Linked DNA regions of Homo sapiens. The protein of the gene in region 2 interacts with the protein of the main gene of each other region in a pairwise test. Each region holds a gene or a part of one and is shown on either strand. Other genes may lie near its edges.

Region 1 (5,199 bases), on a different chromosome or scaffold from region 2:
TATTCCTTTTTTCCCCAACGTTTCCCAAGAGTATCTGCTGCCATCACGGACACAACTGCACAAACAAGGCCCAGAGAAGTCAGTCACACAGCAAGCTTCCACAGCCTGGGGAAATGCATGCTACTGCTGCTGAGTTTGATCAATATGTCTACAGAAATCAGAATGTGACTTTTAAAGGATAGGAGTAGTTCAGGTTTCTTCACCACAGGATTTGCTGCTTCCAGGGGGTGCTTAATTCTACTGACTTGTCAAACTTAGGACCTTTGTCTCAGTCACAACTTAAGTGTTTTTGCTCCCTGACCCCAGCACTTCCTCCTCTGGCTTCACCCTCTGTGGAACATCCAGGAAGAACAATGATTTGGGCTACTCTTGACTTAGTTTACCTAAACAATGGTGGACTGTAATCTAAGTATTCTACGTGAGAACATGAAAACCCAGTCCACCTACCACCATACACTGCCCCTGAGGAGCAAGTCTGTCTGTTCCCCAGAGCCCACATCTTAACCAAAAAGCTTTTACTGGCAACTTGTGGTCACTTTTTAACCTGTTCCTGTTAGCTTACCCACAAGCCTGTTTAAAGTATGTTGGTCTAAGATTTTTTTTCCCCTCAATGTAAGCACCTAATACTTGTTTCTGCTTTTCAGAGAAAGCGGTTCTTTCAAAGGTGCCCAGTAGGTAGACCATCTCCCTAATGGTCCTCAGATGCATGTTATAAGAACTTTATGCTAGGAAATGAATTTCTTCTGATCCACCTTCAAGGCCAGAGGTATTCATGCTCTGTCAACTCCTAGAATGTAAGAATCTTTTTTTTTTTTTTTTTTTGAGATAAGAGTCTTACTCTGTAGCCCAGGCTGGAGTGCAGTGGTGCAATCTCAGCTCACTGCAACCTCTGCCCCCTGGGTTCAAGTGATTCTCGTGCCTCAGCCTCCCAAGTAGTTGGGACCACAGGCACACAACACCAAACCTGGCTGGGTTTTTTTTTTTTGTTTTTTTTTTTGTGTGTGTGTTTTTGGTAGAGACAGGGTCTTGTCATGTTGCCTAGTCTGGTCTTGAACTCCTGAGCTCAAGTGCTCCGCTCACCTTGGCCTTCTAAAGTGCTAGGATTATAGGCATGAGCCACTGCGCCTAACCAGATGTCAGAATCTCAAGGGACTTTTAAAAATTAACACAACCCAAGGTTTTCACACTGTTCAAAAAAGCCACCATCTTTCCCTCCCTTCCCCAATATACACTCATTCATTTAGCTGCCCACTCACTCATTCCAAAACTGCCCATCTTTATGCTTTAAGATTTAATATCAGTTTTTCTTTAAAGAAAGGGTTTACAGTTAAAAGGGTTTGAAAATCAACTGATTTATTCCAAATCCCTCATGTTACTAAAAGGACATTGAGACCTACAGTGGGGAAGTAGCTTGGCCACTTGTCAGAGGAGATAGGTGATAAAGCTGCAACTAGACTCAAAGTCCTGCTCCAGTATTCCTCAGGCTTAGAATCAGCAAACCAGGCCCTGTTATCTCTTAAAACATAGGTGTCAATGGGGAAAAGGGTACAGAAGGCAGGAACACATTCCTCACATGTAGAGTGGTTACACCTAAGCCTAGGGCTTGTTCTGAGACTTTACTTTTTTTACTCAAGTGGGGTTAGCAGCTACTTCTTACTCCAGAGAGCAGTAAGGACATAAGACTCCTGGTTTTAACTGGGGATAAATTATCTCCTTGAGGGACCAATAAATGTAGTTATACAAGAGCATATAAATGTGAAATGGGAATACAATGCCTATCTTTTAGAACGGTGAAAATTAAAGAGATGATTCATGTAAGTCCTCACTATGTGCCTAAATATCAGCAAAAGGCTTTTTCTCTAAGAACAGCTGAAATCCAGGGGACAGAGTCCTGAAGGGATACCCTTTCTAGTCCTTACCTCTTGGTTCCTGGCAGCAGGATGAGGCAGAGAGTGCCCGGGCACAAGCTGTTGTAGAGCTTTCCAATCTTCCGGCTCCAGCGCCAGGCTGCTATCTTCGGGTGGTCCAGTTTCAGAGTCTGGGATCAAAGCCATGTGTCGATACTCAGCCAGAACACTCTCTCGTTACCTTTGGAAGGGCTGCAACACTCTTCCTCTGCCTCTAAGGCTATGGGATTCCAGTAAAGGTTCCAGACAAATCCCTTTTCTAACACTGGAGCCCACACTGCAGGTTCTCTGCTGACCCAGCATCCCCAGGCCTCCAAGTTGGCTAAGGACTTCCTCAGGGGAGGACAGCTACTGTCCTTTCCTCCACATGGGTCTTCCAAGACCCCAAGCTAGGGGAGCCACATTGCTGATGAGGGGTCTAGTCTGGCTTCTGCCATTAAGTCTCTTTGTGACCTTGGGCAAGTGACTTACCAACTCTAGCCCCTACTTTTCATCTGTTAAGTATGAGAGATTAGACTAAGACAGGGTTTCCCAAGCTTCAGCCATTTACCTTCTACCTCCACTCTTCTGCTTGTATATCCCTCTAACATTTTTCCATAAAGTGAGTTAATTTCTTCCTTAGCCTTGTCTAACTAATGCCATCCACAAAATCATAGGCTCAATGTAGTTATTGTATACTTTAACAAGTATTAGCAAAACAAGTCCATTCAGATGTCTTAGATATAATAAAAAGACGGACAAGTCCATAATCATAAAAGTGAAAACAAAAAAGAAAAGACCATCTATGACAACCACAATTTATCTTGTGTATATACCACACTTTGGGAAACCCTAGACTAGATCACTGAATAATTGTCCAGCTCTCTGACTTCCTGCCTTTGTCCTTCAAAGTCCCTTGGAGATCTGGAAGACTAAAAAACTAAGTTTAGCAGGTATGGTGGGGGCAAAAGTATGAGAGATCTGCGAGAAAAGATGTGGCCAGGACTGGAGGAAGCTGGAGAGTGAAATAAGACTGAGGGCCAGGGTAGAAAAAAAAAAAAGATTAAAGGATTAAGTGTCACTGAGCAGGACTCTCCTGACATCTTCTCCAAGACGCCTTCACTCACTCACCTGCAAGGCCTCCTGTTCAAAGGGGGGAGGTACAACACGAAGCCCTGGGAGCCTTGTTGATTCAGGTGGTAAGCCTCTGAGCCAGGCATGGAGGTGCCTGGGGGTTAGGGCATGCCTGCCTTTCAGCTTCCAGTCCTTGCCTGTGAGAATGTTGAGGGCCTGCTGGGCACTGCCAAAACTTTTGAATTCTGAAAGCAAGAACCCCCACCTTATGTTATTAAGGGCCAAGAAAGCTGATCACCATCCAAGCTGCCTGGCCAGGGTCAAAGGAGAAGGACAGAATCAGGAACTGCTGCCCTGGTCCAGCCCAGGAGGTGAATCTTCCTTTCTCTGACCTCATGTTATCACCATCCCCAGTTTCCTTCCCCAAAGCTACATTCAGTAGCATAGACTTACTCAGGAAACAGTATTTTTTCTGCTTTCCACTTTTAAGATCTTTAGGCAAGATCACAGCTTCCAGGCCAAGAAAGAGGCGGGGCTCCTGCAATAGCTGTTCTTTGAAGGTTTCACTCACTCCAGACAGATATATAGAGCCTTGGTTTTCAGAATCTCCTTCCAGCTCATTCACGAGGGTGTCACAATCAAGCGTGAGCTCTGTCACAGGCCTCTGCACCTAACCAAGGAAAGTTGGTGTTAGTGGTAGAAAATCAATTTAATCCTCAGGCCTATTGGATACTAGCAAGTTGTTGCCATTACTAATAACTTCATTTTTCAGTTTCCTAAAATTTTCCGTTTCTTTTCTTTTCTGTAAAAGGAAACTAAAGATAATGGCCTCACAGAATTATGTTAGAGACTTAATTGATAAATACATATTTTCATGTAAACATATTCTCTTCAGTTTCCTGCCTCCCACCCTTAATGAAATTCTGTTTATGTGCACAAGAAACTTCAAAATACCACCATTTGATCTCCCTGAAAGGTGAAGAAAAGGGTAACCACAAAGAACCAACCAGAATAAACCACAGGGGACTTAAGTAGTAACAAAGAATGCAAGGAAGACCCAAATCTAGCCCAGGATGATTTCTGACACAAATGAAAGCCGTTATGTCTTCAATCACTGCCAGTAGGAGAATGTTAGACTTGGCTGAAGACTTTCCATAACAAAGTCTTGTGCGTGGGCCTCTTGAGAGTGTTTCCTATATGTCCTGGGGCACTATAAATACAGGCTGTGGTAGGCCAGACCCAAGCAAAGGGGGCTTTCTCTTGTCACCCTACCTTGATGCAGATACCATCTACCAGAATACCATCCAAGGATTCTATGGCCAGCTGGGCAGCTTCTAGGACTTCATACTGTATACAGAGATGAGGCTGCAGAAAGACCAAGATTTCCTCATCATTGCTTTCCAGCTCAAACTGCTAAAGAAGGGGTTGGGGAAAGGATTCAAACTACAGTGGCCAAAGCCACCAGAATGGATGCCTTTACTGTGCTGGGCTACACAAGTATTGATTGTAAACTGTCAACTTTAAATGGGATCATCAAAGTTCAGAAACTAGCTTTCAGACAACAAATAACTTTGTCATTTAAAATGGAACTACCCAACAGGCTTTTCATAATATTTATTATGCATCACTAAAGTCATCACTGCAAGTCACGGGCAGAGATTCCCATTTGTCTTTTGGCTTAACTTTATAAGCTTGGGAAGGATAAGTTCTTCCACTGGATAGGCTACATCTTCAAATGGTCTGCTTTTCTGTTTGTTAACTCGGAGTAACTAAATCTTTGTGATTATCTGAGCCATAGCATCAATATGGAGATAAAAGCCTTCCCATAGAAAAGTTTCATGACACTGGATTTGGCAATGGTTTCTTGAATATGACATCAAAGGCAGGCAACAAAATTAAAAATAGACAAATTAGACTTCATAAAAATTAAAACCTTTTGTATATCAAAGGACACTAACAGCAGTGTCAAAAAGCAACCCACAGAATGGAGAAATAGTTGCAATCACATAGCTAATAAAAGATTAATATCCAGAATGTACAGAGAAATCCTACAATTCAACAATAAAAAAGCCAAACAACCTGATTTAAAAATGGGCAAACACTGCAGAGTAGCTGGAACTGAAAAAAATAAATAAGAAAAAAAGGGCAAACAAGTGAATAGACTTTGCTGTAAAAGATGTACAAATTGCCTGCGACACTCAACATCACTAATCATTAGGGAAACGCAAATCAAACCCAA
Region 2 (5,880 bases):
CCTCTTCCAATGTACTTATGCACTTAATTGTCAAGAACTTCTACGGTGCTTTAGAAGTCAATGTTCCCAAAGGAAAGGGAGAAGGATTGGTTAGTAGTTTCCATATAGACGTATATAGAAAAGTTTCAAGGAACCTTGGCTTTCTAGGGGCATGCTGAAACAAAGGATGGTTAAAGAAAAGGTGCTCACTTAGTTCTAGCTCGATCACTTTCAGAACCAATTCCAATACCACATGAAAGCACATTAAAACAACAACAACACAACGATTACAACAAACAAACAAATGAACAAGAAAAAACAAAAAACTCACACACAAAGAAAGGGACAGGGCAGGACCCAGAAAAGTCCAGCCTCAAAATGCTTGAAAAGCACTCATCTAGACATGCTCAAGGGGCCTTATAACCTTAGAATATTAATTGTTCATTCTTTGATCTCTTAACATGAAGAACTAGGTTGATGTTATCCTGAGGCAAGAGCTCCTGGGCTAATTAGTACAAATCAAATTAGGAAGAGGTTTCTCTGAGGACTTAAATAAATGCCTGTGACTTGCTGATAAATTCAACCCAATTCATGTTGTGTCCTGAACCAAAGAACAAGTGGCAGCAGAGCCTATTCTTTTGAAGCAGCAGCTCCAAAACAGGGTTATGATGTTCAAAGATAGCCAAAGCTGTTACACCAGGTTTCTTTACCAGTTTACTGGACATTCTGTGCATGGAAATGCCCTTGCTGTGTCTCCTACGTGGGTAATCTAAAGGTGTGACAGTGCATCATTGTGGCAAGGTTAAATTCTAATTCCTCCTCCAACCTAAGCATATCCCCCTGGTCTTTTATTTCACTCTTCCTACTCTTTTCTCCCTCTCCTCCAGTTCTACCTTTCTTCTCCATTCCCATCCTCTTCCTCTCTTCCCCTTCATTATAGTCAGCACAATTTTTTTTTTTGAGATGGAGTCTCATTCTGTCACCCAGGCTGGAGTGCAGTGGCATGATCTCAGCTCACTGCAACCTCTGCCTCCCAGGTTCAAGCAATTCTCCTGCCTCAGCCTCCCGAGTAGCTGGGATCACAGACGCGCACCACCACACCCGGCTATTTTTAGTAGAGGGGGTTTCGCCATGTTGGCCAGGCTGGTCTCAAACTCCGGGCCTCAAGTGATCTACCCGCCTCGGCATTCCAAAGTGCTGGGATTACAGGCATGAGCCACCGTGGTGGCCAGTTAGCACAGATTTTAAAGGTTTAACTCCCTATGCCTTCCCTCAGCAGCCACAGCTTTCCACAACCAAAACCAATTTTTATTTCAGAGACATTTCTGTCCCCCATGGTATACCACAAAATTACAAATGACTACAAGTGTGTTACAGATTAAAAAGCACTGGGGAACACATTAAATTAAAGAGAAAGCTACCTTAGTGACCCTTCGGCCTTTCTATACTCATCTTGATAAAAACAGTGATTTTATGGAGACTTAAAAGGATCTTAATTTGATCTCCTGTAGAATACTCAAATCTCTGGCAGTAGATTTCTCTGGCCAGGCTTACCTCTCTTGAAGAGTCTCTTTCTCTCAGGATCTTTATTTCCTGGTCAATGCTCTCAATCTCTTCTAAGCTGATATCAATCCACCTCTGAAGGTGAAGAAGATAATATTCACGAACACGCTCATCATCTGCTTGACCACTTTCCACAGCAGATTTCATTGCAGACAACCTATGCTCCAACTCCTTCTTCTGCTTGTATCTGTTCCACAGAAAAGCATTACCCATGAACTTACAAATGAAGAGGTATTCCTTCAAAAGAAGGCCTCAATAAGATTTTACCTTTGCAAATGATAGGGTAGTAAGCATACCAATTTCCACCTTGGCAGGGATATAGATTCTATACCCCAGAATTAGCCACCAGGCAGTTCCCTCAGATGACAAGTTAGGGCCCAGCAGGGGCTGAGGAGTACCTTCTGAAGCCAGAAAAATACAGAAGTAACCGGATCTCAGCAAGTCCTTTAGGGAAGATGAGTACCTTAGTCATTTGATTATACTGGCCTTTACTAGGGTGGGTGCTTAGTATCGCAACACAGTGCTTCCTGTGATGCTTCCATTTTGGGAACTACACCTTCAAAAAAATCATAGAATCTTAGGGGTCATTTACCTGCCACTGATGCAGGAATGCCTTGTGAAACAGCCTAAAAAATGATCAACTCTTTTTTTCTTCTGGGCAAAACTTTCGCAGCTCTTCTGGCTCATCCTTTTATCATCTGAAGACTCATAACCACCCTGGCTGCCTTTCTTTTTCAGGATGCATTCTAGTATGTCATCTGACAAATGTCTACTGAGTACCTATTGTGTGACAGGCACCATTCTCAGTGCTGGAGACACAGCAGCATATAAAAGTCCTTGGTCTCATGAAGCATTCATTCCAGTGGGAGTAGACAAAAAGAAATAGATGAGTTAGGTCGTGATAAGTGCTATGAAAGAGCAAAAAGTAAGGTCAAATGCATACAGTGATGGTGGAAAAGTAGCGGTGCTATTATATACAAGGTAGTCAGAAGAGAACTCTCTGAAGAGATGACAGTGAACAAAGACTTCAGGAAAATAACTAAGCCAATATCTAGAAGAGTATGCTAAGGAATAAAAGCAAATACGAGGGCTGTGAGGTGGGAGCGTGCCTGGCCTGACATGGCTGAGAAATAACAAGGTGGCCAGTATGGCTGAGATAAAAAAGAGTGATAGAAAATGAGGTCAGACATAGCCAGGGCCATAATGTGTAGAACCTGGTAGGTCACAATAACCAAATATCAAATATCATGGTATTTTGAATGGGAAAGCCACTGGAGGCTTTTGAATACATGACATGAATAGAGTGACATAAAAACACTTTTAAAAATATGGGCCACTCTGGCTGTTGTGTGGAGTATGGGCTGTGGGGGCTATGAGGCAAGGATATAAGCAGGGAAAGCAACTAAGAGGATACTGCCACAATCCAAGTGAGAGATGGTGACCTGAAATAGGAAGGTAGTGATGGAGATAGTGGGATGTGGGTATATTTAAAATATAAAATAGATAGGATTTGTTGATTTATTGGATGTAAGAGCCTGAAGGAAAGAGAGAAGTCAAGGAAAAACATCAAGATTTCCAAGAGACGTATCTTGAAATATCTCTGCTTGAAATCCCACTTTAGACTCTCCAGAATCAGATGTTCCTCAGTAGGTCTTCACCCAAATCAGGGGGTCTTAAGCTGAAGTCCACAGAGAGTTCAGTGTGGTGGGGGTGGTCCTTGAACTCCCACAAATTTTATACAGAACTCTACCTGTATGCTTTCTTTTTCTTTCTTCTTTTTTTTTTTGGCTGAGAAATTTTTATAGATTTTATCAAATTGTCAAAGGGGCAAGGGGTCCATGACCCATGAAAAGTCAAGAACCGGCCGGGCACAGTGGCTCAGCCCTGTAATCCCAGGACTTTGGGAGGCTGAGGTGGGTGCATCATGAGGTCAGGAGATCAAGACCACCCTGGCCAACATGGTGAAACCCCATCTCTACTAAAAATACAAAAATTAGCTGGATGTGGTGGCAGGCGCCTGTAATTCCAGCTACTCAGGAGGCTGAGGCAGGAAAATCGCTTGAACCAGGGAGTGAGAGGTTGCAGTGAGCCGAGATCGTGCCACTGCATTCCAGCCTGGCAACAGAGTGAGACTCCATCTCAAAAAAAAAAAAAAAAAAAAAAAAAAAAGTCAAGAACCACTGTTCTGAAAAGGCTATTATAAAAATGTTTAGGCTCTTCTGTTCCTTTTACCTAACAAGTGGACATTTACTATAATGTTACGAATAACTGACACATCATCATCCTAAGAAGCTTTTTGAGTAAAACACTACAAAGAACTACAATTCCTAGTTCATGAATGCTATCAGAGATATTACTTGAGAATGTTTAACTCCAATCTCACTCCTATCCCCAACCCTCTTTCCTGGATGTACCTAAGTCACGGGAAAAAAATAACATACGAGGACCTTAGGGTGATATAATTCAGGGTAAATTCAGGGTTAGTCTAGTAGTCCTCTGAATAAGGTTCTTTTGTTTCTTTTCCCATTCTCTGCATGCTTAAGGCCTAACTACTGCACTCTGCTCCTTCCTTTTCTTCTACTTCCTAGCTTCTATGACTTTGCTCATCATCTTTGTTTGTTTGTTTGTTTTTGAGATAGAGTCTTGTTCTGTCACCCAGGCTGGAGTGCAGCCGCACAATTTCAGCTCACTGCAACCTCCACCTCCTGGGTTCAAGTGATTCTCCTGCCTCAGCCTCCCAAGTAGCTGGGATTATAGGTGTGCACCACCACACCCAGCTAATTTTTGTATTTTTAGTAGAGATGGGGTTTTGCCATGTTGGCCAGGCTGGTCTTGAACTCCTGACGTCAGATGATCTGCCTGCCTTAGCCTCTCAAAGTGCGTTCCAGGCGTGAGCCACCGCGCCCAGCCTGCTCATCATCTTTTAAACTTCTAACTCAACACTTGTTCATTTGGGCCAGTGTTTTTAAAACTGTTTTAGTAAAAGAACCTTTTCTTCTAATGAGAGATGCCACGGAACTCCCATAATTAATAAACAAGTAAAATTTACCTTGGTTAAATCAGGAGGGCTGTCAACACCCGCCCCCCCAACCCCCAGGCATTGCAGTGAAATTTTAGGGCTCCAAGGAACATATGGAAAACTACTGTCTTAGACCTTCATCACTGTTATGGATTCTCCATGGTGGGCCATTACATGGAAATACTCCCTGTTACCCTAGAATCCCCTATCCTTGTAACCCTTCTGACCCTGGGCAACTTCCATTTCCTTTCTCTGTTCCCAAGCTGTTGAAGAGAGTTAAGGAATTAGAAACTTGTATCAAATGGGTCAACTACAAATCACTATTGTCAAACTTTGGCTGAGTGGTCACCCTTGCTCAGCCATCCTTTCGTTCATCTTTTGTGAAGACTATTATCACCATCACACTCACCAGATGGCCAGCCAATGTAGAATTCAATTTCCCTCTTCACCATAAAATCTCTGTAACTGGCCGGGAATGGTGGCTCACGCCTGTAATCCCAGCACTTTGGGAGGCCGAGGCAGGCGGATTGCCTGAGGTCGGGAGTTCGAGACCGGCCTAACAAGGAAAAACTCCATCTCGGCCGGGCGCAGTGGCTCACGCCTGTAATCCCAGCACTTTGGGAGGCTGAGGTGGGTGGATCACAAGGTCAGGAGATCGAGACCATCCTGGCTAACACGGTGAAACCCCACCTCTACTGAAAGTACAAAAAATTAGCCGGGTTTGGTGGTGGGCGCCTGTAGTCCCAGCTACTCGGAGGCTGAGGCAGGAGAATGGCTTGAACCCGGGAGGCGGAGCTTGCAGTGAGCCGAGGTCGCGCCACGGCACTCCAGCCTGGGCAACAAGAGTGAAACTCTGTCTCACAAAAAAAAAAAAAAAAAAAAAACAACTCGATAACTTCACTCTTCCTCTTTTACTGTTGTCTTTAAGGAGCTGATTCTGTCTCTACCAAGCCATTTCCAAGGTAATATCTTTGTGTTTTTTTTGTTTTGGTCTCACTTCGTTGCGCAGGCTGGAGTGCAGTGGTGTGATGACAGCTCACTTTGGCCTCTAGCTCCTGGGCTCAAGTGATCCTCTCACCTCAGCCTCCCGAGTAGCTAAGACTACAGGCACACATCACCATGCCCAGCTAATTTTTAATTTTTTTGTAGAGACGGGGGTCTCACTACGTTGCCCAGGCTGATCTTGAACTCCTGCCTCAAATGACCCTCCTGCCTCAGCCTCCCAAAGTGCTGCGATTAAAGGCACAAGCCACTGTGCCCAACCAAAGGTAATGTCTTTACCACTCCACTTTTGTTATCAATCTAGTACCCCCCACACA

What was found.
Region 1: the proteins of IGBP1 (region 2) and REXO5 interact in a two-hybrid assay, tested with the Homo sapiens proteins (one large-scale study listed by BioGRID and IntAct).

Annotation. Positions count from the first base shown.
Region 1 is NC_000016.10:20,843,060-20,848,258, reverse strand, and holds part of REXO5 (RNA exonuclease 5), read right to left. Parts: intron 4,326-5,199; coding exon 4,233-4,325; intron 3,631-4,232; coding exon 3,414-3,630; intron 3,206-3,413; coding exon 3,018-3,205; intron 2,039-3,017; coding exon 1,920-2,038; intron 1-1,919.
Region 2 is NC_000023.11:70,142,482-70,148,361, reverse strand, and holds part of IGBP1 (immunoglobulin-binding protein 1), read right to left. Parts: intron 1,730-5,880; coding exon 1,534-1,729; intron 1-1,533. UniProt on the Homo sapiens protein: Associated to surface IgM-receptor; may be involved in signal transduction.